Linked DNA regions of Homo sapiens. The protein of the gene in region 1 interacts with the protein of each later gene in a biochemical or structural test. Each region holds a gene or a part of one and is shown in the gene's direction. Other genes may lie near its edges. The genes, in order: NEK2, KIF24, PTPRD and PPP1R2.

What was found.
Region 2: of the proteins of NEK2 (region 1) and KIF24, one has a biochemical effect on the other in vitro, tested with the Homo sapiens proteins (one study listed by IntAct).
Region 3: the proteins of NEK2 (region 1) and PTPRD form a complex in vitro, tested with the Homo sapiens proteins (one study listed by BioGRID and IntAct).
Region 4: the proteins of NEK2 (region 1) and PPP1R2 form a complex in vitro, tested with the Homo sapiens proteins (one study listed by BioGRID).

What each region holds. Positions count from the first base shown.
Region 1 is NC_000001.11:211,661,524-211,666,281, reverse strand, and holds the end of NEK2 (serine/threonine-protein kinase Nek2), read left to right. Parts: intron 1-2,629; coding exon 2,630-2,856; 3' UTR 2,857-3,510; downstream 3,511-4,758. UniProt on the Homo sapiens protein: Protein kinase which is involved in the control of centrosome separation and bipolar spindle formation in mitotic cells and chromatin condensation in meiotic cells.
Region 2 is NC_000009.12:34,304,454-34,312,861, reverse strand, and holds part of KIF24 (kinesin-like protein KIF24), read left to right. Parts: intron 1-955; exon of another isoform or gene 956-1,012; intron 1,013-1,490; coding exon of another isoform or gene 1,491-1,515; coding exon 1,516-2,138; intron 2,139-6,420; coding exon 6,421-6,610; intron 6,611-8,408. UniProt on the Homo sapiens protein: Microtubule-dependent motor protein that acts as a negative regulator of ciliogenesis by mediating recruitment of CCP110 to mother centriole in cycling cells, leading to restrict nucleation of cilia at centrioles.
Region 3 is NC_000009.12:8,516,535-8,524,942, reverse strand, and holds part of PTPRD (receptor-type tyrosine-protein phosphatase delta isoform 1 precursor), read left to right. Parts: coding exon 1-18; intron 19-1,418; coding exon 1,419-1,430; intron 1,431-3,396; coding exon 3,397-3,666; intron 3,667-6,513; coding exon 6,514-7,095; intron 7,096-8,408.
Region 4 is NC_000003.12:195,525,679-195,534,086, reverse strand, and holds part of PPP1R2 (protein phosphatase inhibitor 2), read left to right. Parts: intron 1-4,185; coding exon 4,186-4,293; intron 4,294-6,184; coding exon of another isoform or gene 6,185-6,329; intron 6,330-8,408. UniProt on the Homo sapiens protein: Inhibitor of protein-phosphatase 1.

The sequences.
Region 1 (4,758 bases):
ATCTACATATGTTCTCTGCATTTCCTTCTTTATTTAAAGTCTGGTATATAGATATTCAGCTTTCTCAGGGCCCTGCCTTTGTGTGGCATTGTCCCTTCACTCTGCCGCACTGAGATGTGGTTATCGTATATACCAGTGAACCATTGTCTAACATTCTCCATTTTATAGAAACCCTCAATCTAATTTAATCGACTCTTTAAGATTATGTAAAATGCAAACTGTGAAACATCTTTTTGCTTGATTTATGACACAAACTAACTGTTAAAAGTTGTTGGTTTCAAAAATCGAGCATCTGAATTTTCAATAAAATTTAGAGTTTTTATAACTCCCTTATTCCATGTAGGACAGCATATATGAAAGCTATTATTCCCATCTTTAATAAATTGAGATGTAGTGTGATCAATTTAGTGAGCATTGGCAGCATTTTGTAAATGGAACAGACAAAAAACCCTACTTAAGTTAGATTGATGATCACAATAACTTTGTAGTGAATAAGTGATGGAAAGAAATGAAACTACTGATAGAAGTAAATGAAACAAGGATTATATGAAACTTTGGCTTCATCTCTGTTAAAATACCTTCTTTTTTCCCAATATTGCAGTCTACCATTTCAATATTATAAAAATATTTATTCTGGCTTTTCATAGATTCCACACTGTCATCCATAAAGACAAAATAGACTTAAATCATGATTAGGGTGATAAAATGAGGAGAAAATTTTACCTGGATGAATTTCATGCATCAAACCCATTGCAGAGAATTACTTAAGACCCTGTTGGGGATGGCTGTTCGGTTAAAGAGTTTATTTACATTTGCCCTGATAGTCTTTGAGCAAAAGATGAAAATAGCTAAGTAAGGATGATGTGTTTTACTTTATAGGATACACAGATAAGTATGGGAATCTACTTATATGTGAATCATGGCAAATATTTAAAATGAGCCATAGGAATCAAGTATCCACTGGGGCAAGCAGACATTTTAGGGTATTGAGTGCTGAAAGTAGTGAACACATCAGAGCTATAAGATAAGCATCATAGCAGTGGGGAGCGGGTACCATTCTGAACTCAGGACAGTTGGAAATATTCTCTCCCCATCCTTGGGCTATAAAATCCACACGTGAGGAAGCCATCACAAGTATATTGAAATCATCACAGCAAGCAGCAGTGTCTTTTTTAAAAGCTGTTCTTTTCGTATTTGATGAAATATTCATTCTTCTATTTAATGGAAGAATTTTAAAAATGTTTTTAAAACACTTTCTTTCTTATAAAACTGTCCCATTAAGAGCCAAGTGTGGTGACGCACCTATAGTCCCAGCTACTCTGGGGCTCAGGCAGGAAGATCACTTAAGCCGAGGCGTCCAAGGCTGTAGTGCACTACAGCTGCACCTGTGACTAGCCACTGCACTCCAGCCTGGAAAACATGGCAAGACCCCATCTCAGACAAAAACAAAAACAAAATAAAACTATCCCATTAGTAAGACAATGTTGACTTACAAATGTAAAGGTATTTGTGGTAATAAGAAGGTGGATAGAGTTGAAACAGTGGAGATAAGGTCTAAAAGCAATCCAGTTTGCTTTGAAGCAGAAGCGACGTATGAAGCGGGAAGTCACAGGACCCTTGGAAGGCAGTGCATCTGTGTGCCAGCCTTTCCTATTTCTTCTGCCTGGAGCACTCTTCATCCAGACAGCCCTGTGGCTTCTTACTTCAGAAATGCTGTATGAGGCTTTGTATCATTACACCCAGCACCCAGCACCCAGCATGTCCCTGTTTCCAGAGCTATTTTTCCTAATAGCACGTATTACCATCAAATATTCCCCACCAGTACTTGTTTGTTTGTGTTTGGTTTATCTCCTCCTACTAGAATAGGGCCTTTGTTTGGTTCACAGTGGCCCATCCTATGAGCTCAGTAAATATTCGAACATATTTCCTTTAACACAAAAAATAAAAGGATTCTAGAATCTGTAAGCCTCCAGCCCCCAGTAATTCTGTCAGCAGTTAATAGTGTTGCCACTTTAAGTAAATATGATTATTATTTATTTTTTCCATGTAAAGAATAGTTTACAGTTTTTACTACTCTTACTTGATTTACCTTTTCCACACTGAATTTGTTTAGATTTTTTGGAAACAGATTTCTCGTCCATTAAGATGCTTTGAACTAAGTGTTCTTGAACATTTAACCAAAACTGTAGGTGTTCTCTATTTAAAAAAAAAAAAAAAAACAAAGACAGAAAAAAACCTCTGCTTCTACACTTTTCTGTAGGTAAGGTGTTCTGCATAGAATGGCACTTATTTTCAAGGACAGAGATAAATAACATTGATTTCCAAAAGTTTTATGTTGTCCATAATACTCAGTGTGTTTAAGAGTAAAATTGATTGTTGGTTGTTAAGAGAATAAAACTTATGTTCCTTGAATTTTGGCACATTCCAATATTATTTTTTCAATGCTGTGGATTAAAAGGCTGATTTCTGCAAGTCCTACACCCCTAACCTCCTATCCCAGAGAAAATAAAACAGGCACCTAGATTTCAAATGTGAGCCATAAGAGCAAATACTTTTTGATAAGTATAAGTATGAAGGAGTTGAACTCTGTTCAAGTAACTCAGAGCCCTTTTTCTTTTTCCTTCTAAAGAACTTCTTAATCTTCCATCCTCAGTAATTAAGAAGAAAGTTCATTTCAGTGGGGAAAGTAAAGAGAACATCATGAGGAGTGAGAATTCTGAGAGTCAGCTCACATCTAAGTCCAAGTGCAAGGACCTGAAGAAAAGGCTTCACGCTGCCCAGCTGCGGGCTCAAGCCCTGTCAGATATTGAGAAAAATTACCAACTGAAAAGCAGACAGATCCTGGGCATGCGCTAGCCAGGTAGAGAGACACAGAGCTGTGTACAGGATGTAATATTACCAACCTTTAAAGACTGATATTCAAATGCTGTAGTGTTGAATACTTGGTTCCATGAGCCATGCCTTTCTGTATAGTACACATGATATTTCGGAATTGGTTTTACTGTTCTTCAGCAACTATTGTACAAAATGTTCACATTTAATTTTTCTTTCTTCTTTTAAGAACATATTATAAAAAGAATACTTTCTTGGTTGGGCTTTTAATCCTGTGTGTGATTACTAGTAGGAACATGAGATGTGACATTCTAAATCTTGGGAGAAAAAATAATGTTAGGAAAAAAATATTTATGCAGGAAGAGTAGCACTCACTGAATAGTTTTAAATGACTGAGTGGTATGCTTACAATTGTCATGTCTAGATTTAAATTTTAAGTCTGAGATTTTAAATGTTTTTGAGCTTAGAAAACCCAGTTAGATGCAATTTGGTCATTAATACCATGACATCTTGCTTATAAATATTCCATTGCTCTGTAGTTCAAATCTGTTAGCTTTGTGAAAATTCATCACTGTGATGTTTGTATTCTTTTTTTTTTTCTGTTTAACAGAATATGAGCTGTCTGTCATTTACCTACTTCTTTCCCACTAAATAAAAGAATTCTTCAGTTTCCCTGTAGTTATGTGTCTTGCATTTGTTGGTCTCTTAGTTGATGGGAGTTGTGTTTATGATTTGTAGGTCTTCATTGTAGGGTACAGAAGGAAACATGGATCTGATGCTCAAGGGAGTGGCATTCCAGTCCTAAACTGTATGGCGCTTTACCTCCCATCTCATTAATCCATGTATGTAAGCCAGTGGTCCTTAACAGGGTGATTTTGCTCCTCAAGAGACGTTTGGCAATGTCTGGGGGCATTTTTGATTGTCATGATTTGGGGTAGGGTGCTACTGGCTGCTAGTGGGTACAGGCCAGGGACACTGTAAACATTTTACAATGCACAGGACAGCTGCTGACAACAAAATGTCCATGGGTTTGGATCATAATCCTGAATGATACAATCTCAAATGCGAAAATCCTGAAAGACCAAAATCCCTAATGTCTTAAATCCCAAAAGATCAGAATCCCTAATGTGTGAACTTCCAAAATCACAATCCTGAAAGATTAAAATCCCAGATGTTAAAATCCTGAAAGCCGAATTTGAGGTTAGGGATTAGTGCCGTTTCAGCTGTATACAGGATAATTGCATCATGTTAGGCAGAACTATTACCTTGTTATTGTCTTCATTTGGAAATTAAGTATGGTTTAAGAGATGTGGATGGATATCGAGTTGATAAGGGGTGAACTTGTTGATTTATGTGTCAACTTGACTGGATTAAGGAATCCCTAGAAATCTGGTAAAGCATTATTTTAGATGTGTCTGTGAGGGTGTTTCCAGAGGAGGTTAATATGTGAGTCTCAGTAGACTAGGTGGGGAATATCTTTCCTCAATGTTTAGTGTTTTGAAGATCATAAAAGCGACTTTTCAGGTGAAAAGTACAAGAAATCTCTCCTGCCAAATTATTCAGTTATGTACAAATTCTGCTCCTTCATGAATAGTGCCACGCTTGCCTTAAAAAAATGCCCTTTGTCAGAGAATAAAATTCGACAAGCTGAACGACCTTGTGAACCAAAGACACTTGCTGATACTGAGGTTCCTCCAGTGTTACAAAACTCATTAACCAAACTGTTCTTGGTTAGGGATTTGACTGTCGAAGAAGATAGACTGCTTATATTTACCACTAAATCTAACAGAAAAACTATCGCATGTTTTCATTTTGGCTAGTGGACGGCACTTTCAAAACTATCCCTACTGGTTTTTATCAACTATACATGATTCATGCCCCTGTTGGTTCTGAAGATTCTAGAACTTATCTAGTCATTTAAACAAT
Region 2 (8,408 bases), on another chromosome or scaffold:
CCGGGTGTGGTGGCACGCACCTGTGAATCCTAGCTACTCAGGAGGCTGAGACAGGAGAATTGCTTGAACCTGGAGGCGGAAGTTGCAGTGAGCCAAGATACCACCACTGCACTCCAGCCTGGGCAACAGAGTGAAACTCCATCTCAAAAAAAACAAATCTACCACAAATAGAAGGCCAGGATTAGTTTAGGATGTGTTACTCAGCCCATTTAGCCTTTTAGCCTAAGTAGTATTTCCCCCAAAGCTAATTATTCAACGTTCTTTGGTTATCTTTATTACCTTGCCCTCACCTCTTTCTCTGTTTCTGCTAGAAAGAAGATGAAATAGAAATTAAAACGAAAACAGGAAAGTTGTACCACTAGTTACCTAACTGAATTTTTGAAAACTCTGAATTATGAAACCATTTTAAAAAAGAAAATGTACTGTATTTACTTTTGGATATTCTCATGAACTTGATTAACAGTGATATAGAGAGCTCAGGATCCTGACTTTTAATAATAGACCAGGATTATGTGTTATTACCACATTATTTGTTAGTATTTAATTAAATATCTTGATATTAAAATTTTTTAAAAGATACAACTATTTAAAATCTTGACCTTAGTATTAATTTCCTGGGCAAATTATTTGATTCATATTCTGTACAGGTAGAGATCGATGACCACCTTTTGGAATGATCTGAAATCCTGAATTGGCTGATGCTGAATTGATGATGTCTTTACTTCTATTTAACTAACTTTTGCCAGTACTCAGCAAATGCAAATGCTATCTTCCTTTGAGTTACATTAGTTTATAATCCTCTGTGGTATGCCATTTAATTCTGCTTTTCATTCTGAAAGAGTTCTTAGCCCCTGTTCATTATTCATGGGAAACAGTTGTGCAGCATGCCTTGACATTAAGTTGAGCATCTAAAATTAGTCCTGCTACAATCAGTTGTTGGGAACAAGGTTTCAATAGTTGTGGCATGTGTTAAGTAGACATTGCAAGGTTGGAAGGAACTCCCTAGAAATAAGTAAGTTATGTGTTATGTATGTGTTCATTTGTGTATCTATGTGTATATATATATGTGTGTGTATATATATGTGTATATATATGTATATATACACATATATACGTATATATGTATATATATACGTGTATATACATATATACGTATATATGTACATATATACGTATATATATACATATACACGTATATATGTATATACACGTATATATACACATATGTAAAATGGAATGTCTCTTTTTATTAAGCAAATTAACAAATTATATGTTACCACAAATTCTTCATATGCAATACAAAGCATCTTTGTTCATGCACTATGCTATTTAATCAATAATTTCAGAAGAAAAATATGTTATTGAGAACTTGACAGATAAAACATTTTTTGCATGTTTGTTTTGTGGTTTTGTGGTTTTCAATTTTTAAAATAAATAATTGTATTACATGTACTCTATTTCAAGCGAATGGCTTTTCTTTCTCTCTTCAGAGTTTATAGAAACCTATTCACCAAAATGGCATCCTGGTTATATGAATGTCTTTGTGAAGCTGAACTTGCACAGTATTATTCTCATTTCACTGCCCTTGGCCTTCAGAAAATAGATGAATTAGCCAAGATTACAATGAAGGACTACTCCAAATTAGGAGTCCATGACATGAACGACCGCAAACGTCTCTTCCAACTTATCAAAATTATTAAGATTATGCAAGAAGAAGATAAAGCAGTCAGTATCCCAGAGCGTCATCTTCAGACAAGCAGCCTGCGCATCAAATCTCAGGAATTAAGATCTGGCCCTCGCAGACAGCTGAATTTTGATTCTCCTGCTGACAATAAAGACAGAAATGCCAGCAATGATGGGTTTGAAATGTGCAGTTTATCAGATTTCTCTGCAAATGAACAGAAGTCCACTTACCTAAAAGTGCTAGAACACATGCTACCAGATGATTCCCAGTACCATACAAAAACAGGAATTCTGAATGCCACAGCTGGTGATTCCTATGTGCAAACAGAAATCAGCACTTCACTCTTTTCACCAAATTACCTTTCTGCAATACTGGGGGATTGTGATATTCCCATTATTCAAAGAATCTCTCATGTTTCAGGGTATAACTATGGAATCCCTCATTCTTGTATCAGGTAATAAATTTTATCTTTCTTTCTTTTGAGGGAAAGTAGCCTCAGGCAAGGGCAGGCCTCTCCTTCATGTCCAGCAGACAGCATCTACTCCTTATTTATAGTAAATGAATATAACAGAAATTATCATGAACAGCATTTGCATCAATAATAGGAATACCTGGATGTGGGAAAATTAATGAGAAATTGGGACTTTCTAGGTGGGAGAAAGATGATATTGTTCATGTACATCAGAACAGCTGCTACTTGCCAGGATCTGTAGCAGATCTGTTTCTATTGTTTATTATAGCGTAACATGATACATCTAGTACATCTGTGAAAGTGAAATAGTTAACCCTTCTACAGTGGAGAAAAAAATTACACAATCCACAGGACTTTTTTAAGGTTATCAAATTCACTTAACCCAACCAGGAGACTTAAAGATGCTTTGTTAAAAAACAAGGGCATGTAGTTTAATTAAGTAGGTCTTTGGGGCAGTTAGTTCACCTACACACATTGAAATATGATCCTAATTTTGAGTGCTTTCTACAATTTCAACCCCGGAAAAAACAGATAATTTTGGTGATTACAAACAGTAAGACATTGTTGGTGGAGATGAGAGTTTGAGAGTCAGGGTGACAATAAGTTATTTTCACCTAGTGCTTCGAGTTAGAATTTGAAATAAGGTCCCTAAGAGGTGAAATAACAAGTAATCCCTAGTACTAACAATGGTATAATAGGAAATATGTTCTTTTAATCTTGTAAAAAAAAAAAAAAAGTACTCCTTGTTTTATTTTAAACATTATATATGTGAGTTATGGGCAAACAAAATTCATTCTTGAGCCATATTTTCTTTTTAAAAATACTGTTATTCATACCTTAAGATAAAGAATTTATATCTGGTCTTACATTGGCTAAGGTTTCAGAAGATCTCATAATCAGTTATTTTACTCCATAAAAATAGAAGACTCAGTTTTAACAGTAAAAATATCTTTAATAATTTGAAATACATAAGTGAATTTTTATTATAATATTTCTGAAAACATTTTGTTTGGTCTAGGAGATCACAGAGCATGTAATACTGTTTTCTTCTTTTAATTCTGAGAGGAATAGATTGTTCCTTGACTATGAAGGCAGATTGTTGCTATTGCATTGGTTACCTCAGCGGTGAAGGAGTAAATATTTTCTTTTTTTTTTTTTTTTTTTTGAGACGGAGTCTCGCACTGTCGCCCAGGCTGGAGTGCAGTGGTGCAATCTCTGCTCACTGCAAGCTCCGCCTCCCGGGTTCATGCCATTCTCCTGCCTCAGCCTTCCGAGTAGCTGGGACTACAGGCGCCCGCCACTATGCCTGGCTAATTTTTTGTATTTTTAGTAGAGGTGGGGTTTCACCATGTTAGCCAGGATGGTCTTGATCTCCTGACCTTGTGATCCACCCGCCTCAGCCTCCCAAAATGCTGGGATTACAGGCGTGAGCCACCACGCCTGGCCTATTTTCTTGAATATTACTTTTTTACTGAACAGTACATAAAAATCTAAATTGGAATTACTTATAAGTAAAAATACCACTTTATTTAACACCATCAAGGATAGGATGGATATTTTAGTTTAACCATTACCATTTCATTTATTTGACTCTTTTGTTTATTTGTTTGTTTGTTTGATTTGTAGAGACAGGGTCTTGCTCTGTCACCCAGGCTGGAGTGCAGTGGTGCAGTCATAGTCCACTGGGGCCTCAAACTCCTGAGGTCAAGTGATCCTCCTGCCTCAGCCACCCAAGTAGCTAGGACTACAGGTATGCACCACTGTCCCCAGCTAATTTTTCAATTTTTTGTAGAGTTGGGGATCTCACTATGTTACCCAGGCTGGTCTTGAACTCCTGGCCTCAAGTGATCCTCCCACCTCAGCTTCCCAAAGCACTGGGATTACAGGTGAGAGCCACTCTGCCCTGCCCAAACTAGAGCTTTTTAAAAAAACATGCATGTCTTTTTGCTCCTTGAACTTGAAACTATGGGCCTTTTGTTCATATGAGTCATCCTAGAGCCCTGAACAATTTTAAAAAGGACCAAACATTTTCTATCCTCTTTGATCAGCTTTATATGATTAGGTTATTGATATCCAACAACTAAAGATTTTAACACAAAACCCTTATTAAAATGATGCATTAGGCCAGGCACAGTGGCTCACACCTCTAATCCCAGCACTTTGGGAGGCCAAGGCGGGTGGATCACCTGAGGTCAGGAGTTCAAGGTCAGCCTGGCCAACATGGCTAAACCCCATCTCTACTAAAAATACAAAAATTAGCAGAGCGTCATGGCAGGTGCCTGCAGTCCCAGCTATTCTAGAGGCTGAGGTAGGAAAATCGCTTGAACCCAGGAGGCAGAGGTTGCAGTGAGCCAAGATTGTGCCACTGCACTCCAGCCTGGGTGACACAATGAAACTCTGTCTCAAAAAAAAAAAAAAGCATTAAAAATTTTCATTTTTGATGAGCACAGTGGCTCATGCCTGCAATCCTGGCATTTTGGGAGGCCAAGGCAGGCAGATTGCTTGAGCCCAGGAGTTCGAGGCCAGCCTGGGCAACATGGTGAGACCCTGTTTCTACAAAAATACAAAAATTAGCCAGACATGATGGTGTGCACCTGTAGTTCCAGCTACTATTGGCTGAAGTGGGAGGATGGCTTCAGCCCAGGAGGTTGAGGCTTCAGTGAGCTATGCTCGCACCACTGCACTCCAGTCTGGGTGATAGAGCAAGACCCTGTCTCAAAACAAAAAATTCCCTTTTCTTGTGAAAAATCAAACATATGCAAAAGAAGAAAAAAATAGAACACTGAATCCCAATATGTCCATCATCCAATTTCTTTTTCTTTTTTCTTTTTTTTTTTTTTTTTTTCAGACAGAGTCTTGCTCTGTTGCCCAGGCTGGAATGCAATGGCACTATCTCACCTGTGAACTCCACCTCCTGGGTTTAAGTGAGCATGCCCAGCTAAGTTTTATATTTTTAGTAGAGATGGGGTTTCACCATGTTGGCCAGGCTGGTCTCGAACTCCTGACCTCAAGTGATCTGCCCGCCTCAGCCTCTCGAAGTGCTAGGATTACAGGCGTGAGCCACCGCACCTGGCCCGTCATCCAGTTTCAATGATTGTCACGATTTTCCCACAGTACCTCAAAATGGTACATTTCATTTATTCTGTCATTTATTTATTCCATCTGCAGTTTCATGCAAAAATGATGCATTTTAAAGTCCCTAAATGTTGGTTAAGAAAATAAAATTTGCTTTAAAACATGCCATAAAATTAGTGCTTTATGCATTCATTATATTAGAAAATTATTTGCTGGTTTTTTTTTTTTTAAACCAATTCAGATCCCAGTAAAAAAATTATTCTCCAGGCTGAGCGTGATGACTGATGCTTGTAATCCCAGCACTTTGACAGGCCAAAATGGGAGGATTGCTTGAGGCCATAAGTTGAAGACCAGCCTGGGCAAGATAGTGGGACCCTGTCCCTACAAAAATTACAAAAATTAGCCAGCTGCGGTGTTGTATGCTATAGTCCTAGCTACTTAGGAGGCTGAGGTAGAATTTCTTGAACCCTGGAGGTTGAGGCTGCAATGAGCCATGGCTGTGCCACTGTACTCCAGTCTGGGTGACAGAGTGAGATCCTATCTCAAAAAAAATTTTTTTTCAGCAGCCAGTTGGAGGGCTAAGGAAATCAGAATTGATATGAAACAATTGTATAAAATAGTATTCTATATATGATCTCTTAGGGGTTTTTTGTTTGTTGGTTGGTTTTTTGTTGTTGTTCTGTTATTTGTGTTTTTGCAAGGAAAAGGGCGGAGCAGGGTGGGGATGGAGATAGAAGAACTTTCTCAGGGTTGACACTTTACTTTGTAACTTTAAGAAATATATTATGCCTAATATACAGCAAAATGTACCAATACTTTTTTTTTTTTTGAGACAGAATCTGGCTCTGTCGCCCAGGCTGGAGTGCAGTGGCGCAATCTCGGCTCACTGCAAGCTCTGCCTCCCGGGTTCACGCCATTCTCCTGCCTCAGCCTCCCAAGTAGCTGGGATTACAGGCGCACGCCACTATGCCTGGCTAATTTTTTGTATTTTTAGTAGAGATGGGGTTTCACCGTGTTAGCCAGGATGGTCTTGATCTCCTGACATCGTGATCCGCCCACCTCGGCCTCTCAAAGTGCTGGGATTACAGGCGTAAGCCACCGCGCCCGGCTAAAAGGTACCAATACTTTGACCTGTTAAGTAATCTTGTCCTATTATTAAAAATTAAAAGCCTGTTTATAAACATATTAGACAGAACACTTCAGAGAAACAGAATCCTTGGACTGAGATGGAGAAAATCAGAGTTTGTGTTCGAAAACGCCCCCTGGGCATGAGGGAGGTACGTCGTGGAGAAATTAATATTATTACTGTAGAAGACAAAGAAACTCTACTTGTGCATGAGAAGAAAGAAGCAGTTGACCTCACTCAATATATTCTGCAGGTATGATGTTTTCGTTTTATGTTTGGAACTAATATTATCAAGTATGTCATTTTTTTTTGCTTTTTGTTTGAGTGGTGGCATACAAGTTTCTGTTAGAACACTGAAAATCAAGTTTCTGGTTCGGGTGTTGACATTCATTCCTGATGTGACACTGTATTAAGTCATTGATATCCAGGGCCTTCATTTTTTCAAAAGACGGTGCAATAGGGGATACAAAAACAATTTCTCTTGTGCAGTGGAGCTACATCATATATTCACTTAACATGCTTTGTGTGAATTTAATTATACATATTCAGCAAAAAAAAGGAGGAATGAAGGAATAAAAATAATTTAAATAATGAAGTGGGGCCAGGTGTGGTGGCTCACGCCTATAATCCCAGTGCTTTGGGAGGCTGCAGTGGGAGGATCACTTGAGCCCAAGAGTTTGAGACCACCCTGGGCACCATAGCGAGATCCTGTCTCTCCAGAAAAGATCTTAAAACTAGCCCAGCATGGTGGTGTGTACCTGTAGTCTTAACTACTCAGGAGGCTGAGGCAGGAGGATCACTTGAGCCCAGGAGTTCTGCATTACAGTGAGCTATGATTGCACCACTGCACTCCAGCCTGGGCAACAGAGGGAGGATCTGCCTCTAAAAGAATATAAAAATAAAAAACAAATAAATAATTAAGTAGTTGTCAACAGGACCAGTCACTGAATATATGACTATGAGATGTCACACAGTTGATTTCCATTCTTGCTTGCATCTCACAGTGTGAACTTCTCATTCTGCTGACTTTGAGACTTGGGTTTAATGATGGACAATATCTTTTTGGGCAACAGGACCGACAATTGCCAGCCACGTGCTTATTTTGATTCTCAGCTGTCTTGGGCTTATACTTAATTGGCGAAAATTGGGCTCTGAGCAGACCACTTTATACAGGGTAGATTGCAGTGGGTAAATAAAATCCAGAGATATGATTTCACATCTAACATATAAGGGTTTAAATAAAACACTAATAACTCAGCCATGTAAATAATGTTCACTGCCTGCTAGAGTGATTATGAAGAGTCCAAGGAGAAAGAGTTTGGTATTGAAAGAAACTTATTCCAAGCTGAAGGTACCTTGCAATAATTCTTTAGTCTCATAGGGAAACAGCAAACTCCACAGATGGAAAGAATCATCATTTAGGTACTCCTAAAATTGTGAAAAATTGTGAGTAATCTAAAACCAGATAATCCATTGGATGTTAAGATTTGAGAGTACACAGTTTCTCTTACTCTGAATCTACTTCCCTAAACATTCATATTATATTTATTCTTTCTCTCTCTCTTGTTCTCTTGCCTCAAAACCCAGTGACTGGTAGGAAGAAAAAAAAATCTGGTATGCTAGCAATTCACCTTAGTCAGCTGAGATCTTACATTAGTGGAATAAATCCTTTAATGCTGAAGTGATTTGTTAACACTTTCACCCTTTTTCAAACTTGTATTGTTCTTCTTTTTCTTTGGTTACCAAAATTGTGTTTCACAGAGATATTCAGAGTAATCCACTGAGTCTTTCTACTGGTACTAAATTACTAGGCCACTGTAAAACCAACCCAATCACTTTAACAGCCTTATCGATTGCTGATCAATGCACGGTCTATTAGTTCTCAGTGGGAGATATTTATTTTGAAAATGGACTAAATGACCAATTAGTTGTAATGCTATCTAGTTCCATGGCTACTTATAGCCATCGTAATAGCCCTATCCAATCACTGTCTACCTAAGACTTCCTTAATGATGCTTCTGTCACAGTAATTCCATCAAGGAGGCATCATC
Region 3 (8,408 bases), on another chromosome or scaffold:
CCAATTTATATGTCAGAGGTAGGAATGACATAACCCTGGCATCGCTTCTTCATTCAGGCTCAGGGGGAGTTGAGACGCCGCAGGGTCCGTGTTGTTATATTAGTAGTTAACAAGCTGGTTTGGTAATAGTGACCGTAGCTGAAACATGTTAGTAAATAGAAAAGTTAAAAATTTAAAATGTGTTGTTTAACTCCAAAAGACAACTCTTGAGTATAATCTGTCCTGAGGCTTGGAGTTTGTAAGTATATTTGCATTTTTACATCTTGGTTTCTATTTTTACTGTATTGATTGAACTGTGCTTTGCATTTGTTTGAGGTTTTCTTCTTTTTCTTTCTCTTTTTTTCTGTTGTTTCTCTTCTGTTTCCTTATTAAACCCCTGAAATAATTGCTTGGTGTGCTACTAATCAGTTCTCTGTGCAATTCCAAGCATAAAGGTGTTTATGTCTTCATGACCCCTGCTGCTGAAACTGTAAGGATAAAGCTGCTAACTCTATAAAACAAGTGCTACATGCAAATAGCACAGTTGCATTTCTGTCTTCGTATACTTTCTTAATTATAAACACATAGTATTATATATACATGTGTATTCATATATGTGCACATATGTACACCTTTTTGTTTGAATTATTAAGACTTACCGAAACATTTAGTTTTTTGATTGCAATGGAAAACTGTATTTTAAATAGTAATGTGAGTTGTCCTTGAGACAAGAATGAATTATGAGGATACATTCATATGTTCTCATGAAGTAATAGAAATGATTAAACTGTGAGCTTATGAATGGCTATGCCTTTCCATTCAACTAGAAAGAAGTACTTCCTCTTCCCGAGAGTTCTCAAAGCCAGTTCCTGTAGTTTTTTTTATCCAGTGGAAGTGTTCTTATTCCTGGTCTACATATCTGTGAATAACCACAAAGGCATGGGTGGGGGTGGGATTAAAGAAAAGACTGAGAGGGCTTTAAGTTACAATAGGATGGGTTCCCTTAAGAAAATACCTAGCTTGATTTTGAAATTTTTGTTAGAGGTAATTTTGTTTCCCTGGGGATGTTTTTCTCTCCTTTCTTTTTTTATGGAGTCTGGGGTGGGGAAATATGAAGAAAGTCATTTCTTCTCTAAATTCTTCGAAAGTCCCTTGATCCTTTTTCCACAATAGTGACCTCCCTTGCTGCATGAGGCATGTGTACCTTCTTCCATGGAAAATTTCAAAATGATGCTAGCTATTGTTTCTAATACCATGTTAGTCTGTGAGATATTGCTAACTTTTCCAGCTGAGATAGGAAGGATGAACTAGAGCGAATAAAGATGTTCAAGTAGCAGTTGAAAGCCTTGATATGGCCTTTTTACTCTCTCTGTGTTTCCCTTGTTTTTCTCCTTTCCTCATTTCATTGTGTTCTGCATCAAACCCCCTACATCCCTCAGAGCTGCGAGAAGGTTGGTGTGTTTTTTACTTTTTACCCACCTTACAAAACTATTAATTAAACCAATAACAAAGAATACAAATGAAATGAATGTAGCTGCATTGTGTTCTTCTTTTGGTTAATGGTATGTTTTAGCAGAGAATGCCCTGGCCATGGCTTCTGGTGCTTGCTGGTGGTATCTAACTGTGGTGCATGGTGGGAGAGAATGTACCTGGGTGCATGGTAACTGGTAACACTTAACTCTGTAAGGTCCAGTGAACTTGGTCAGTGTTCCTGCTTTCCTTCCTGCTCCACTGTCCCCATCTCCCACCCTGCCTTTAATTTCTGTCTTATAAGGATGCCTGCTGCCCATAGAATGACTTTTTCTAGTTTCTCCCCTAATCCCAAGCATGAAGACTAAACTCTCCTCCATTTTTCTTGATATGTTCTTTGATACCTCAGAGTCTACACTGGCTCCTGCTTGCTTTGTGTAACCTCTGTGAATTGGCTGCAGGAGGCATGCTTAGCTTTCTCTTCTTCTCCTATGACTGTCATTCACCCATGAGGCCATTGCAGTGAGCCATCTCAAATAAGCGGAGGTTTATCTCGACCTTAAGAGCAGCCAAAAAGTTTTCAGACAGAATTACTTATCTTCTTCTTGGGGTTATGAGGTTACTTATCAGTTTATTTATAATTTTTAAAAAATCTTTATTAAATGTATTTAAGGTGTGCTCCCTAAAGATTACCCTCTAGATCTCAAATTCTTATGGTATGACATTTTGCCAGTAAAAGCCCCAGATGAAACCAATTTATCTTTCACTTTCTCCTTGTATCACATCCAAAACACATTTACTTAAACACACATAAACCTGCAGATTATCTGAAGCAGGAACACTGAACTGAAATTGCTTGGTAATTTTTCTGTGTTATGTTGCTTTAATATGATCTCTTCTCTTAATGTCATGTCCTGCTGTATGTTTTAGATCCAGTGTCCCTCAATTTGAATGTGGGCATAAAAAGCCTTTTAAAAGATTTTGTTGTCATTTATGTTGTTTTACCTTTGATATGAATTGAATGGAATCCTGTATGTGAAACACCCAGCTCCCTTTCTGAATTTGCAATCCTTACCTTTAACAACTTGAGCTTAATCTTCTGTCTTTCAACCCTGTCATCCCCTAAGTCCCTGTGTTTCAATCGTTATACTTTACCTCCCCCTTTCACGTTTATTTCTATTGCCCCCTTATTTCTTCTGCGGTCATTGCTGTCTTGGATTCCAGCCATTCTTTCAATATCCTTAGCACGGGCCTTGAGATTCCATCTTGTGCATGCCTTGCATGACCCAATCCAGTATCTCTACTGGTGTTAGCCTGTTTCTTCTTCTGTGACTGTAAATCAATATGTATATACATTTCTGTGTTTGTTCCAGTGTTAGTGTGAGGTCTTGAGGCTGCATCCACTATGAATCTGAAAACATAAAGTGCACTTTCAGTGTACTCTAGGTGATGTTTTCCAGGGCTGGGATGTGACAGTGTGGTCCCACACCTACATTCACATCAACTGGAAGTGCACAGCACTGAAGTTGGTTTTGATACTCAACTTAAACATGCTGGTGACCTTCCAGCCCCCTTTTCTGCATATACATGCCTGCATAGAATCATTGTTATATGCCTGCATGTATATGTTTTTGTGTTTATCTTATGCATGATGTTTGTGTATTGTTAGTTTGTAGATAGTTTTTTGTGGGGCCCTTGTAGGTCTGAATCAACTTTTGTATTAGTGTGTCTAAGATATCAATGACTAAACTAAATAAATAATTCTGTGTATACACACACCATACTTGTATGGTCTGTATTATCCACAGTTTTTCTTTATGTTTTGTTTTTGGACAATCCACAATGTTTCAATTGTTGAATCGTGTCTGTACGGTGCATGTCATGTGTTTAATAATCCACTTTTTCTTGCCTTGTATATGTTATCATTTCCCTTGTGTTTTGTTCCAGTTCGCCGTGTCCCACCAAGATTCTCTATCCCACCCACTAATCATGAAATCATGCCAGGCGGAAGCGTTAATATCACCTGTGTGGCCGTGGGGTCACCAATGCCTTATGTAAAGTGGATGTTGGGGGCAGAAGATCTGACACCTGAAGATGATATGCCAATAGGAAGAAATGTGCTAGAACTGAATGATGTAAGACAGTCAGCAAATTACACCTGTGTTGCTATGTCAACACTGGGTGTCATTGAAGCAATAGCACAGATCACTGTCAAAGGTATGCTCAATGGATTATGCTTTGAGGATCTGGGTACACTCAAGCCAAGTGACTAATGCCTCTAGAAAGCCCATCCTTGAAAATCTAAAATAATTCATTATTCAGCATTTTAAATGTGTGTATAACCTAATCATATCTGTGGTATTATATAACATGCATAAGCCTAGATAGGCGGATTTTTTCTTGGAAGTATCTGGCAGCCTATGTAGAGATAATCATCAGAATATTAAAAGACAGTCCATGGAGGCCCAGGCACTAACCAGACAGAACTAGGAATTTTACACATGGTCGACCATTATGGTGGGACTGATGTGTACAGTCTACATACTAGACCAGAACCTTGATAAGAACCCCAAGAAAAGTCAATATGAGCATTAATAAATGCTTAAAATTTCTAAATACAAAGGAAAAAGAAGAAAAAAAAAGTTGAAATCAACATAGTCTAGTAATAGATGATTTAACTTTTTGGTGAGCCCTACTATTAAAAATCAAAAGGCAAGTAAGAGTATATTCTGTTGTAGTTTTATCTTTCACCTTGCATAGATGAGTGCTCAAGGAATATTCTTTCCTTTAAAAAACAGACTAAATATAACCAAAGTACTATATTACATGAATATTTTTGAACTAAAGAGAAAGAGTACAAGCATGTAAGGGTACCGTTTTTTTTTCCCCTAGTGTTTATAGAATTCTAGAAAGTGTTTGCAAATTGAGTCAGACATAGGGCAACTTAAGTTTTCTGCAGATGGCTAGAACTATTGCAAAATGAACACAAATTATCTTCTTTTCCTAGGCAATGTTGTAGGCATTTGGAATTCAGCAGCAAGTAAGAAGTACAAGTTTGCTACTCTTGAAAAGCTGCCATTCTAGGGGGTGATCTTAGAAAATGCAATACACGTTATAATTGGTATCGCATCTCTAACCAAGCGTATATATCAAATATATGCTATATAAAACTAATGACATGAGAACAAAGGTACACATTGTCAACATTTACAATCGTGAAATAATGTTATATTGTGTAACCTTAATATAATAAGCACACATGTATTTATCCGTACATTACAGACATAAAACCTGTACTGTACAATAAATGTGACTTAGTGAAACTAATAATGTCAGCTAAATATCAGTGAGCACAGCTTTAATTAGCAATATTTGTATTTGCTTTGAAAGTTCAGAAAGACATGTAGGGGAAATCTGGAGCACACACAGCCTTGAAAAATGCCAGGTCAGAATATTTAAACAAATTTCATTTTATTATTATTTTCAGTAAATTCCCTTGACAAAATACTATCATTCTGTAGTTCTTTGAGTAGTGTGTAAATATTGAATCACCTTTTTTATAATTACCATTTCAGCTTTAAATATTTGAAGGCTTGCTGAAGACCTTTAAGAATTCAAAAGCAGGGGCCACTTTAAACTAATATTTTGTTCACCTTCTCATCTTTGTTTTCCTGACTCTTGCCACTTCCCTGTCTTTTCCACCTCAAAAATAAACAAATAAAACATAAGAGTGAATCTTAATGGCAAATTAAAATAAATCAAAACAAAAGAACAGGTTGAAGAGAATGAGGTGAATGGGTGCTGACTCATTTATTCAGTTAACTGTTTAACGATTCTCATTAAAAACCTACCGAGTGCCAGGCAGCATTCTAGGCATTCACAATTTTACAGTAAGTCAGAAGTACAAGTTTGCTGCTCTTGAAAAGCTGCCATTCTAGGGGGTGTTATACTTCTTGCCTTTATGTTGGCAAGGAAACAGGGACACTAATGGGCTGATTATATGAATGTTACCCTTTGAGATTTCTCTAAAGAGTCAACTATTAGAATGCCCCTTCCTACCCTAATAGCACTGCGTTTCAGAATCATTGTTTAGAATAAGGCACTTGAATATGAGGTCAGCAAAGCAGACAGTTTATATTTTTAATTAGTAGTATTTTGATTTGTATTCTTCTGCTAAAAAGAAAGAATTAGACCTCTAAAAAGATGGATTTTATTGCAAATATTTGTCATGTAGCTACATTGGATATTTCTGATGTGGAATATAGAATGCATATTAATATGACCATAACATACCTTAAAAAGTGATTGGTGAATGTGCCTTAATTTACTTCCTTCAGCAATTTTTAAATATTAAGAATAAAGCATTGATTTGAAATTTCTATTCTTTTGCACCTTAAAATTTTTGGTTTTTCATTTACAAGAAAATTTTTAGTAATGGTATTGTGTCTTACCAGAATATAGATGTTATTGTTTCATCGCAATTTAATTTCATTTCAATGTATTCCACATTTTGTTCTTTTCAATGTTTATCGGTATTTCAGTTATACCATTTATTTATTGGGGCAAGGGGCTAATTGGCCAAGCTTTTGGTATAATAATAGTAATAACTGCAGCTAATACTAAGGTTTTTTTGTGGGTTCCAGTTACATTCTAAGAATCTTAGTGGATTGGCTCATTAGTCTTCACAGCAAACCCATGAAATACAGTTACATACAGCTGTATAATATGACTTAAATAATAATATTTTTCCCATTTCCACATGAGGAAACTAAAGCAAAGAGAGGTTAAGAAATGCGTGCAGGATCACTTAGCTAATAAGTAGAGGATTTGGATACAAGCCTAAAAATATGCTATCAAGCCCTTCTAGGAAAGCAGGATTTGTGTCACCTATGAATGTTTTCCTGTCCTTCTTGGCCATTCAGAAAACTACTCTTTGCTATAATTTCATTTAATTAAATCTTCAGTAGATACATAATCCTGTCATTTTCATAGTAGAGTTTATAGATTTTTGAAATATTATAGGGATGATGGGTAGTCATTGTCTTTTATCTTCCCCCATCCAAGCCTTACCCAAACCTCCAGGAACTCCTGTAGTGACCGAGAGCACAGCTACAAGCATCACACTGACGTGGGACTCTGGGAACCCTGAGCCTGTTTCTTATTACATAATTCAGCATAAACCTAAAAACTCTGAGGAACTTTACAAAGAAATTGATGGGGTGGCGACCACACGCTACAGTGTCGCTGGACTAAGTCCCTACTCGGATTATGAATTCAGGGTTGTTGCTGTCAATAACATTGGGCGGGGGCCTCCCAGCGAACCTGTGCTAACACAAACCTCAGAGCAAGCACCATCCAGTGCCCCGAGGGATGTCCAGGCACGAATGTTGAGTTCGACCACCATTTTGGTACAGTGGAAGGAACCTGAAGAGCCAAATGGACAGATCCAAGGATATAGAGTTTATTATACAATGGATCCCACTCAACATGTCAACAACTGGATGAAACACAATGTAGCTGACAGCCAAATCACTACTATTGGCAACTTAGTGCCCCAGAAAACATATTCTGTCAAAGTCCTGGCTTTTACCTCAATTGGAGATGGTCCCCTTTCAAGTGACATACAAGTCATCACTCAGACAGGAGGTAAGTTTGGTTGAGGAGGGAAATAGGGCAGGAGGGAAGGGCTGGTGCAAAGAGGTGAGAAGGACAAAAACAAAGAAGGAACAAAGATGGTATGAATTTTAATTTTTGAGATTTAGGGCTTCAAAGCAACAGATGATAGATATCTGAAAAGGAACAAGCATGGACATCTGAAAAACTAATCATTTTGAGCAGAACAATGCATTAACACCCCTTCTTTTTAATTTGTATGGGAATGACTTGAAGACTTCTCTATGTGAGATAGAACAATGTCTCCCCCATGCCCAGTTTTGAGAATAGAAAAACGACACTTCTTTGTAATAGCTAGTATGGTAGAGTGGTCTCAAAAGAGTATTTAATTTGTGTAAGATTGGATGGTTCAAGACAAAGCTAAAAAATAAAACTGTTACAGGGCCTTGGGTATTTAAATGGCTTATATTTGCCAGAAGCTACTGGCTTGAAAATAAGTATTCTCTGAGTGGCTTTAATTTCTGTTTTTCTCTGTATGGCCTCAGTGGATAAAGAGAGACAGTTACCGAGATCTCAGATAGAACATTGGGCCTGATTGATTAACTTTGCTAAGAGCTACAGCAGACATTAGACTATTTTATGAAGGAAAACTTGGCCCTCCCAGTGGTTTTATTTTTCTAAGAGGTTATCAAACCTCTTTGGTCTTTGAGTCAAGGTGATCAGTTTGGCTTTGGGCTAATATAAAATAACAGGCCTCTTCTAAAGTTTATTCTTGAGCCACGCACAGTGGCTCACGCCTGTAATCCCAACACTTTTGGGAGGTAGGTGGATCACTTGAGGGTCAGGACTTTGAGACCAGCCTGGCCAATGGCAAAACCTCATCTCTATTAAAAATACAAAAATTAGCTGGGCATGGTAGCAGGCACCTGTAATTCCTGCTACTCAGGAGGCTGAGGCAGGAGAATCACTTGAACCTGGGAGATGGAGTTTGCAAGTTTGCAGTGAGCTAAGATTGTACCACTACACTCCAGCCTGGGTGACAGCAAGACTCCATCTCAAAAAAAAAAAAAAAAAAAAAAAAAGTTTATTCTTGAGCATCTGAGAGCTACTTCTTTGACTCCTTATTGTGTTGGCATCTTTTAAACCTGCATTAATCTACGAATGTTTTGGCATCATGCTGTTGGCTTGTTTTGAAATCTACATAATAATCATATTATTGGAGACAGTATAATCTGTAGACATAACTCATTGCTAATCCTGGCAATGAATTAATAAATTTTCTCAGATGCCAGTACTAGATAATGTACCTATCATCTATTTCACTGATACCTGTGAATCACTGACTT
Region 4 (8,408 bases), on another chromosome or scaffold:
TGCCTCAGCCTCCCAAAGTGTGGGATTACAGGTGTGAGCCATTGCACCTGGCCCTTTCTCATTAGTGATTTTCTTAATGGCCTCTGGGAACTCGTCTGCAGCCTGTTGGTTGGCAGAAGCTGCTTCTCTGTTATCTTGTAATTTTAAAGCCAAACCTCTTTCTAAAATTATCAAACCATTGTTTGCTCGCATTAAATTCTCCAACTTTAGATTCTTCACCTTCTTTTTGCTTTAAGTTATCATATAGTGACATCATTTTTTCTCAAATCATATTAGAGTCTATAGTCTTGTACAATCCTGCACTCACATAAAAGATGCATCGGCAATACAAAAGGCACTTCACAAAATATGCAAGGTTTTCATGCTGGTATCGCTACTGCAGTGACAGCTTTGTGAATTTCCTTTTATTTGATTTTATTTTTACAATGGTCTTTATGGTGGATTCATGTTTAAATGATGGGCAGCCGCAGTTGCAGAGCTCCATCTAAGGTACTCATCAAGCGTTCTACTTTTTCTTGTAATGTCACAACTTTGCTTCTTGGGAATGCTTCCAGCATCTCTAGTGGCATTTTGTATGACTCCCATGGTGTTACTCAAGGTTTACAATATTGCACTAAATAGGATAAAAAATACTCAAAAACCAAGACAGATCACTTTTTATTGCAACAGGCAATTTACTGGAGCAACAAACTACTCACACTGAAACAACTAGCATCATAGAGCTTTTTTTTTTTTTTTTCCTGAGGCAGAGTCTTACTCTGTTGCCCAGGCTGGAGTGCAGTGGCATGATCTCTGCTCACTGCAACCCCTGCCTCCCGGGTTCAAGTGATTCTTCTGCATCAGCCTCCTGAGTAGCTAGGACTACAAGCGCAAGCCACCATGCCTAATTTTTTTGTATTTTTGGTAGAGACGGGGTTTCACCATGTTGGCTAGGCTGGTCTCGAGCGCCTAACCTCAAGTGATCCACCTGCCTCAGCCTCCCAAAGTGCTGGGATTACAGACGTGCCTGGCCGCATCATAGAGCATTTTAAGCAAACTTGCAACACTTGAGGAGACTGCAGTAGCAACAAGAGATAGCTGTGAAACTGTGACATAGAATAGTATGTACTGTAGTTAATTTTATGCAGTTATGATCCAACTGCAGATCCAACACCATGTGTTGTATGTGCATGTTTTGATAAATTTTAACGTTACATTTTAACTAGGCTTGTGAATATTTTATGGTAGTAAATGATAAAGTAGACTATTCTCTATGTATAATGCACTTATGACATAACTAACTTTTAAGGTTTTTTTAAATATTTCTGGGCTATGTGGTTTATCTGAGTTTCTTCAAATTGTCACAAGCCTCCAAAAAAATTTCCAGTAGATTTGTTGAAAAAAAATCCGCATATAAGTGGACCCACACAGTTCAAACTCATAATATTCAAGGGTCAACTATAAATAGAGTCCAAGAGAAGATTTTTTTTTGGCTTCTCTATAGTAAAGGGTAACTGAAACTTGAACCTTCAGTGTCTGTCTCCCGGTTAAATTTGTTTTTTGTTTTCTGCCACAAGCTCAACTATGTGACAGGCAGAAGCCTAGGCATCTGAAGACATCGGTATTGTTAAAGCAAGCTCTGTTTACCCAGTCTAGTTCAGTCCCAGAAGAGTGTGATGAGTTCCCTTAAAAATTACACAGTCCCACTCCTGGCAGGTGACTTTTTTCAAATACTAAGGACATATTAATTTGATTATGGCCAGGTGTGGTGGCTCATACCTGTAATTCCAGTACTTTGGGAGGCTGAGGCAGGGGAATTGCTTGAGGCCAGGAGTTTGATACCAGCCTGACAACATAGCAAGACTCCACCTGTAAAAAAAAAAAAAAAAAAAGAAAAAGAAAAAGAAAAATTAGCTGGGCATGGTGGTGCGTACCTGTGGTCCCACCTAGTCAGGAGGCTGAGGCAGGAGGATCACTTGAGTCCAGGAGTTCGAGACTGCAGTGAACTATGATCATGCCACTTTACTCTAGCCTGGGGTGACAGAGACCCAGTCTCTTAAAAAAAGAGAGACATTCTGACACATGCTACAATATGAATGAACCTTGAAGACATTATGCTTAGTGAGATACGCCAGTCACAAAAGGACAAATACTTCATGATTTCGCTTCTGCGAGGTACCTAGAGTGGTCACATTTCTAGAGATAGAAGTAGAATGGTGGTTGCCAGGTCTAGGGGCTGGGGAGAGTGGGGAGTTAGTACTTAATGAGTACAGTTTCAGTTGGGGAAGATGAAAAAGTTCTGGAGATGAATGGTGGTGATGCTTGCACAATGATGTGATGTTCTTAATGCCATAGAATTGTACACTTCGTAATGGCTAGTGCTTACTTCAGGAGCACGTGCACTAAAATTGGAATGATACAGGGAAGATTAACCAAAAAACAAAAAGGTTAAAATGGTGAATTTTATGTATGTTTTACCACAATTTTAAAAAATGAAGAAAAAAAGTGCTTAGTCCGAAATGGGGACACTGTGGGTATATTAGGGTAGAAAGCAAAAGAATACGAAGTCACCTGCAAGAGTAGGCCTGTATAATTTTTAAGGTAACTCATCAAACCATTTTGAGAGTATGGAAAAGGGAATATGTTATTAAAATGTTGAGTATGTTATTCTTAAAGGGTATTTCAGGATCTGGGAAATTGAAAATACCTGCAGTAAAACCTTAACAATTTAGACCAAATGTGGAAAGCATTATTTAAATCAGTGTAACATTTACATTGATTCTTTTTAAGGCAGGTTTTTCCAAGTACATACTAAGTAACAAACTATATGTAACAAAATAATGTTGGCTTGTAGAAAGGTCTTTGAGGTCTTTTTTAAGGAGTATGTAAGCATTTAAAATGAAAGCATTTAATTATCGAGCACCTTAATAGTTGTGCAAATACTTCATTGCATGAAATTTAACAGATGTTTCTAAAGTACTTATAGGCCAGGCACGGTGGCTCACTCCTGGAATCCCAGCAGTTTGGGAGGCCCAGGCAGGCAGATCACGTAAGGTCAGGAGTTCAAGACCAGCCTGGCCAACATGGTGAAACCCCGTCTCTACCAAAAATACAAAAATTAGCCAGGTGTGGTGGCAGACACCTTTAATCCCAGCTACTCAGGAGGCTGAGGCAGGAGAATCGCTTGAACCCAGGAGGCAGAGGTTGCAGTGAGCCGAGATCGTGCCATTGCACTCCAGCCTGGGCGACAAGAGCAAAACTCTGTCTCAAAAAACAAAAATAATGGCCCGGCCTGGTGGCTCACACCTGTAATCCCAGCACTTTGGGAGGCCAAGGCAGGCAGATCACGAGATCAGGAGTTCAAGACCAGCCTGGCCAACATGGTGAAACCCTGTCTCTCCTAAAAATACAAAAATTAGCTGGGCGTGGTGGTGCGCGCCTGTCATCCCAGCTACTCGGGAGGCTGAGACAGGGGAAGCGCATGAACAGGGAAGGTGGAAGTTGCAGTGAGCCGAGATGGCGCCACTGTACTCCAGCCTGGGCAACAGAGTGAGACTCCGTCTCAAAACAAAACAAAAATAATAAAGTACTTAGAGAGAACGTCTATTGCTCTTCAAGTAGGTTTGAATACACCATTTCTGAGCAAACCTTTATTTTTCTAGATTAGAAATAAACAGAGCTGTAATTTATTTGCAATCTAATGATTTAGTGGTGTCTGAGTTTGATGAGGTTTTCTCTATAGTTTTATTGTTTGAATCTTTATGTTCTGAGTGTTAACAGATATCCCAGAAAGAAATTATGCCAAGGAAGTACTCCTGTTGTGTTTTTTACCGAACAGTTACTGATATATAGATCAAAAATGCCTACTGACTTCAGCGAATGTATAGATTTTGACTTGCATTATTTTATAGGCCAAATGAAGGCTAAGCATGTCATAGTATGGTAATGTTTTGAATGCCTGATATAGATACTAAATATTGTGTTTTTAATATGTGGGCACTAGGTGTTCTATATTTACTGACATTTTATTGTAGTTACTTAATGGTTTTTACCCTGAGTCAGCTTCTATTCCAAGAAAGTATATGTGAAAATAGAGGTTGGCCATCAAATAGAAGTTGAAATGTTAAATTTGGACATTTGTGAATTTTGATATTCAGGTTTATCTTTTTCTGCATTGGGAAAAACGTTTTTTCTTTTTAATTTTAGCAAAAAATCCCAGAAGTGGGATGAAATGAACATCTTGGCGACGTATCATCCAGCAGACAAAGACTATGGTTTAATGAAAATAGATGAACCAAGCACTCCTTACCATAGGTAATGTTACGTAGACGTCATTCCTCTTGTGACTTACTTCCATTTTGCATTTCATATGAACGTCTGGATAACAGCCTATTTGAATTTGTTTTATTGTAGATTTGTTACTGGAGCACTAGTGAAGTCAGTAACCTAACTGCAATTTGTTTAGTAATGGTTTAAGTGATGTGTAAGTTTAAAATTAAGAAAGCCATTTTGTACATTATAATGGTAGTAGTAAATGTTTATTTGTTGCACCTCAGTGGTTGCTAGCTACTAATGGTGCATATATTAGTTTTAACTTCCATGAAAGGAAGATGAGATATGGGCTTGTTTGCTTCCCAAGTAGAAATCTGGGGTTTACTCAGTCTCTTTGCAGAGAAGCATAACTGCATGGATGGTAACCCACTGAAAGATAGGTGTCATTATTACTGTTTATGTCTTCATTTTTTAACTTAATGTAATATTGTTGTTCAGATCATTACATGTAATTTTTGACAATTTCAAGTCTCAGAATTTCCTAAATGAATTGTGAAATTACATTACGCAGCAGTAACCAGTATGAAGACAAAAATAATGCAAGAAGCATTATGAGAAGATGAGGATTCTAAATAGGTATAGATACCTAATTAAGATAATACCTTGGGCCGAGCACTGTGGCTCACGCCTGTAATCCCAGCACCTTGGGAGGCCAAAGTGGGCGGATCACCTGAGGTGAAAGACCAGCCCGGCCAACGTGGTGAAACCCCATCTCTACTAAAAAAAAAAAAAAATACAAAAATTAGCCAGGCATGGTGGCGGGCACCTGTAATCCCAGCTACTCGGGAGGCTGAGGCAGGAGAATTGCTTGAACCCGGGAGACGGAGGTTGCTGTAAGCCAAGATCACACCATTGCACTCCAGCCTGGGCGACAAGAGCAAAACTCTGTCTCAAAAAAAAAAAAAAAAGATAATACCTTGGCTGGGCATGGTGACTCTTGCCTGTACTCCCAGCACTTTGAGATTACAGAGGCAGAGGTGGGAGTATTGCTTCAGGCCAGGAGATCAAAACCAGCCTAAGCAACATAGTAAGACTCTTTCTACAAAAAAAAAAAAAAAAAAAAAAAAAAAAAATAGTTATGCCCTACCTACCTTGTATTGAAAAAAATAAAAGATTTCCAAGATTAAAATATTTTGTCATTGAATTAAGACAGCATAAATCCAAAAGTTACCATTAAAATAGAGGTAACTGCTGTTTCCATTTGTTCTGTAGTGAAAGAAGAGTTAAGAACTACTGTATTTTAAGTCAGTGGGTGAAAACTTTGGAAGATAATTTGAAATAACCTGTTACTAACAAAAACAGTAAAAATAAAAAACTTGAAGATATTAAAGACTGATGAGCATAAAAAGAAATAATGAAATAGGTACAGATGCTGAAACTCAATACTGATGAAATTTGAGTGAAGAAATACACAGTTTTTTGTGGTATATATGTATGTACCATGGAATATATATAAAAAGGAACAAAATAATGGCATTCACAGCAACCTGGATGGAGTTGGAGACCATTACTCTAAGTGAAGTAACCCAGGAATGGAAAACCAGACCTTGTATGTTCTCACTTATAAGCGGGAGCTAAGCAAAGGCATAAGAATGATACAGTGGACTTTGGGGATGGGAGGGGTGAGAGGGGGTTGAGGGATAAAAGACTACACATTGGGTGCCGTGTACACTGCTCGGGTGATGGGTGCACCAAAATCTCAGCAATTACCACTGAAGAACTTACCTGTGTAACCAAACACCACTTGTTTCCCAAAAACCTATTGAAGTAAAAATAAATTGAGGGGAAGAAAAACAATAAAATTACAATTAGTTAAAAAAAAATACGCATGCTAAAAAGAGGTTTATATTCTTATTTTTCTCCTAAATTGCAGGTATATACTTTAAAAATCTTAAAAAAAAAAAAAGATACAAGATCTGGCTATGTTGCCCAGTGCAGTGGCTATTAACAGGCACAGTTATAGCACACTACAGCCTGGAACTCCCGACTCAAGTGATCCTCCCTCCTCCGCCTCCCAGGTAGCTGACTATGGGCACACATCACCGTGCCCAACTTCTAAAATGTATATTAAAACCTTTATTGTACCAGAATCCAAAATCAGAGTGTACTTTCTTTTTACTAAATGTAGTGGCCATCCGTCACTCACTTGTGTTAGTTGGGGATAAGTATCCTAGGAGAATTAAGATCAGACATGATTTAAAAAAATAGTTGAGGCCAGGTGCAGTGGCTCAACGCCTGTAATCTCAGCACTTTGGGAGCCTGAAGCAGGAGGATCGCTTAGCCTCCCAAAGAATGCTGTTTTTTATTTTTTATTTTTTATTTTTTTGAGACAGAGTCTCACTCTGTCACCCGGGCTGGAGAGCAGTGGCACGATCTCAGCTCACTGCAAGCTCCATGTCTCAGGTTCAAGAGATTCTCGTGCCTCAGCCTCCCAAGTAGCTGGGATTACAGGCACCCACTACCACGCCTGGCTAGTTTTTGTATTTTTAGTATTGACAGGGTTTCACCGTGTTGGCCAAGCTGATCTCAAACTCCTGACCTCAAGTGATCCACCCACCTCAGCCTCCCAAAGTGTGGGATTACAGGCATGAGCCACCACGCCCTTCCCCAAAGAACTCTTGCCCAGGAGTTCAAGACCAACCTGGGCAACAGAGTGAGACTCTTATCTCCACAAAAAAAATTAAAACAAATTAGACTAAGCACAGCAGCTCACGCCTGTAATCCCAGCACTTTGGGAGCCTGAGGCGGGTGGATCACCTAAGGTCAGGAGTTCAAGACCAGCCTAGCCAACATGGTGAAACCCCGTCTCTACTGAAAATACATAAAAATTCCCAGATGTGGTGGTGGGCGCCTATAACCCCAGCTACTCGGGAGGCTGAGGCAGGAGAATCACTTGAACCTGGGAGGCAGAGGTTGCAGTGAGCTGAGATCGCGCCATTGCACTCCAGCCTGGGCAACCAGAGCGAAACTCTGTCTCAAATAAAAAAAGTAAAATTATCCAGAGGTGGTGGTGTGTACTTGTAGTCCCAGCTAGCTAGGAGGCTGAGGCAGGAGGACTGTCTGAGCCCTGGAGGTTGTAGCTGCAATTAGCCATGATCACGTCATTGCACTCCAGCCTGGATGACAGAGGGAGACCTTATCTCTAAAGAAAAAGAAAAAAAATTTCAGAATAGCTATGGCCATTATTTTTTGACTGTTTATAAATATAATTTGAATGGTAGATATTTGCCATTCAAATAACCAGAAAAGTTATTTGGTCCCTAAGTAATTGAGGCTATGTGCATGCAGAGATAACCTGTGTCCTGCTTTTATCAGTTCACTGCTCAGTTTTATCATTTCTTTCCATGACTTTCTTTTTTCTTTTTGAGAGTTTCATTTGGCCAGCCATGGTAGCTCATCCTTGTAATCCCAGCACTTTAGGAGGCTGAGGTGGGAGGATTGCTTGAGCTCAGGAATTGGAGATGAGCCTGGGCAACATAGAGAGACCCCGTCTCTACAAAAAATAAAAAGAATTAAGCCAGGAATGGTAGCACATGCCTGTAGTCCCAGCTACACAAGAGGCTTAGGTGGGAGTATCACTTGAGCCCGGGAAATTGAGGCTGTAGTGAGCCGTGATGGTGCCACTGTACTCCTGGGTGACAGAATGAGACCCTGTCTCAAAAAAAAAAAAAATTTTATTTAAGTGAAGATGCTTTTTATAGAAACATCATGTCTTATTATCTAAGAATCTCACAGTTAGTATACAAGAAGTTATTGCTTCTGTATACATGTACATATATAAACATAATTCAGTAAATTTTACAACTAGAATTTTCTATAGAACGATTCTATAAATTAACAAAATGTTTATTTTACCTTACTTTGCTTGATTAAACTCAATAACATAGATCAATTTCAACTTCCCTTAGAAAAAAGAACGTCATCTAAACTATAGACTTACTTGTCACCTTAATTAACCAGGAAATGTATAAACTGGCAGTATTTTATAAATAGCTGAGTTCTGCTTTATATACTTTGCAGTGGCTTAAGAATTAAGGTTGCCCATTTTTGCATTGAAGTGGGGAGCAAATTTTTCATTAGAGGGTAGAGTGAGAAAG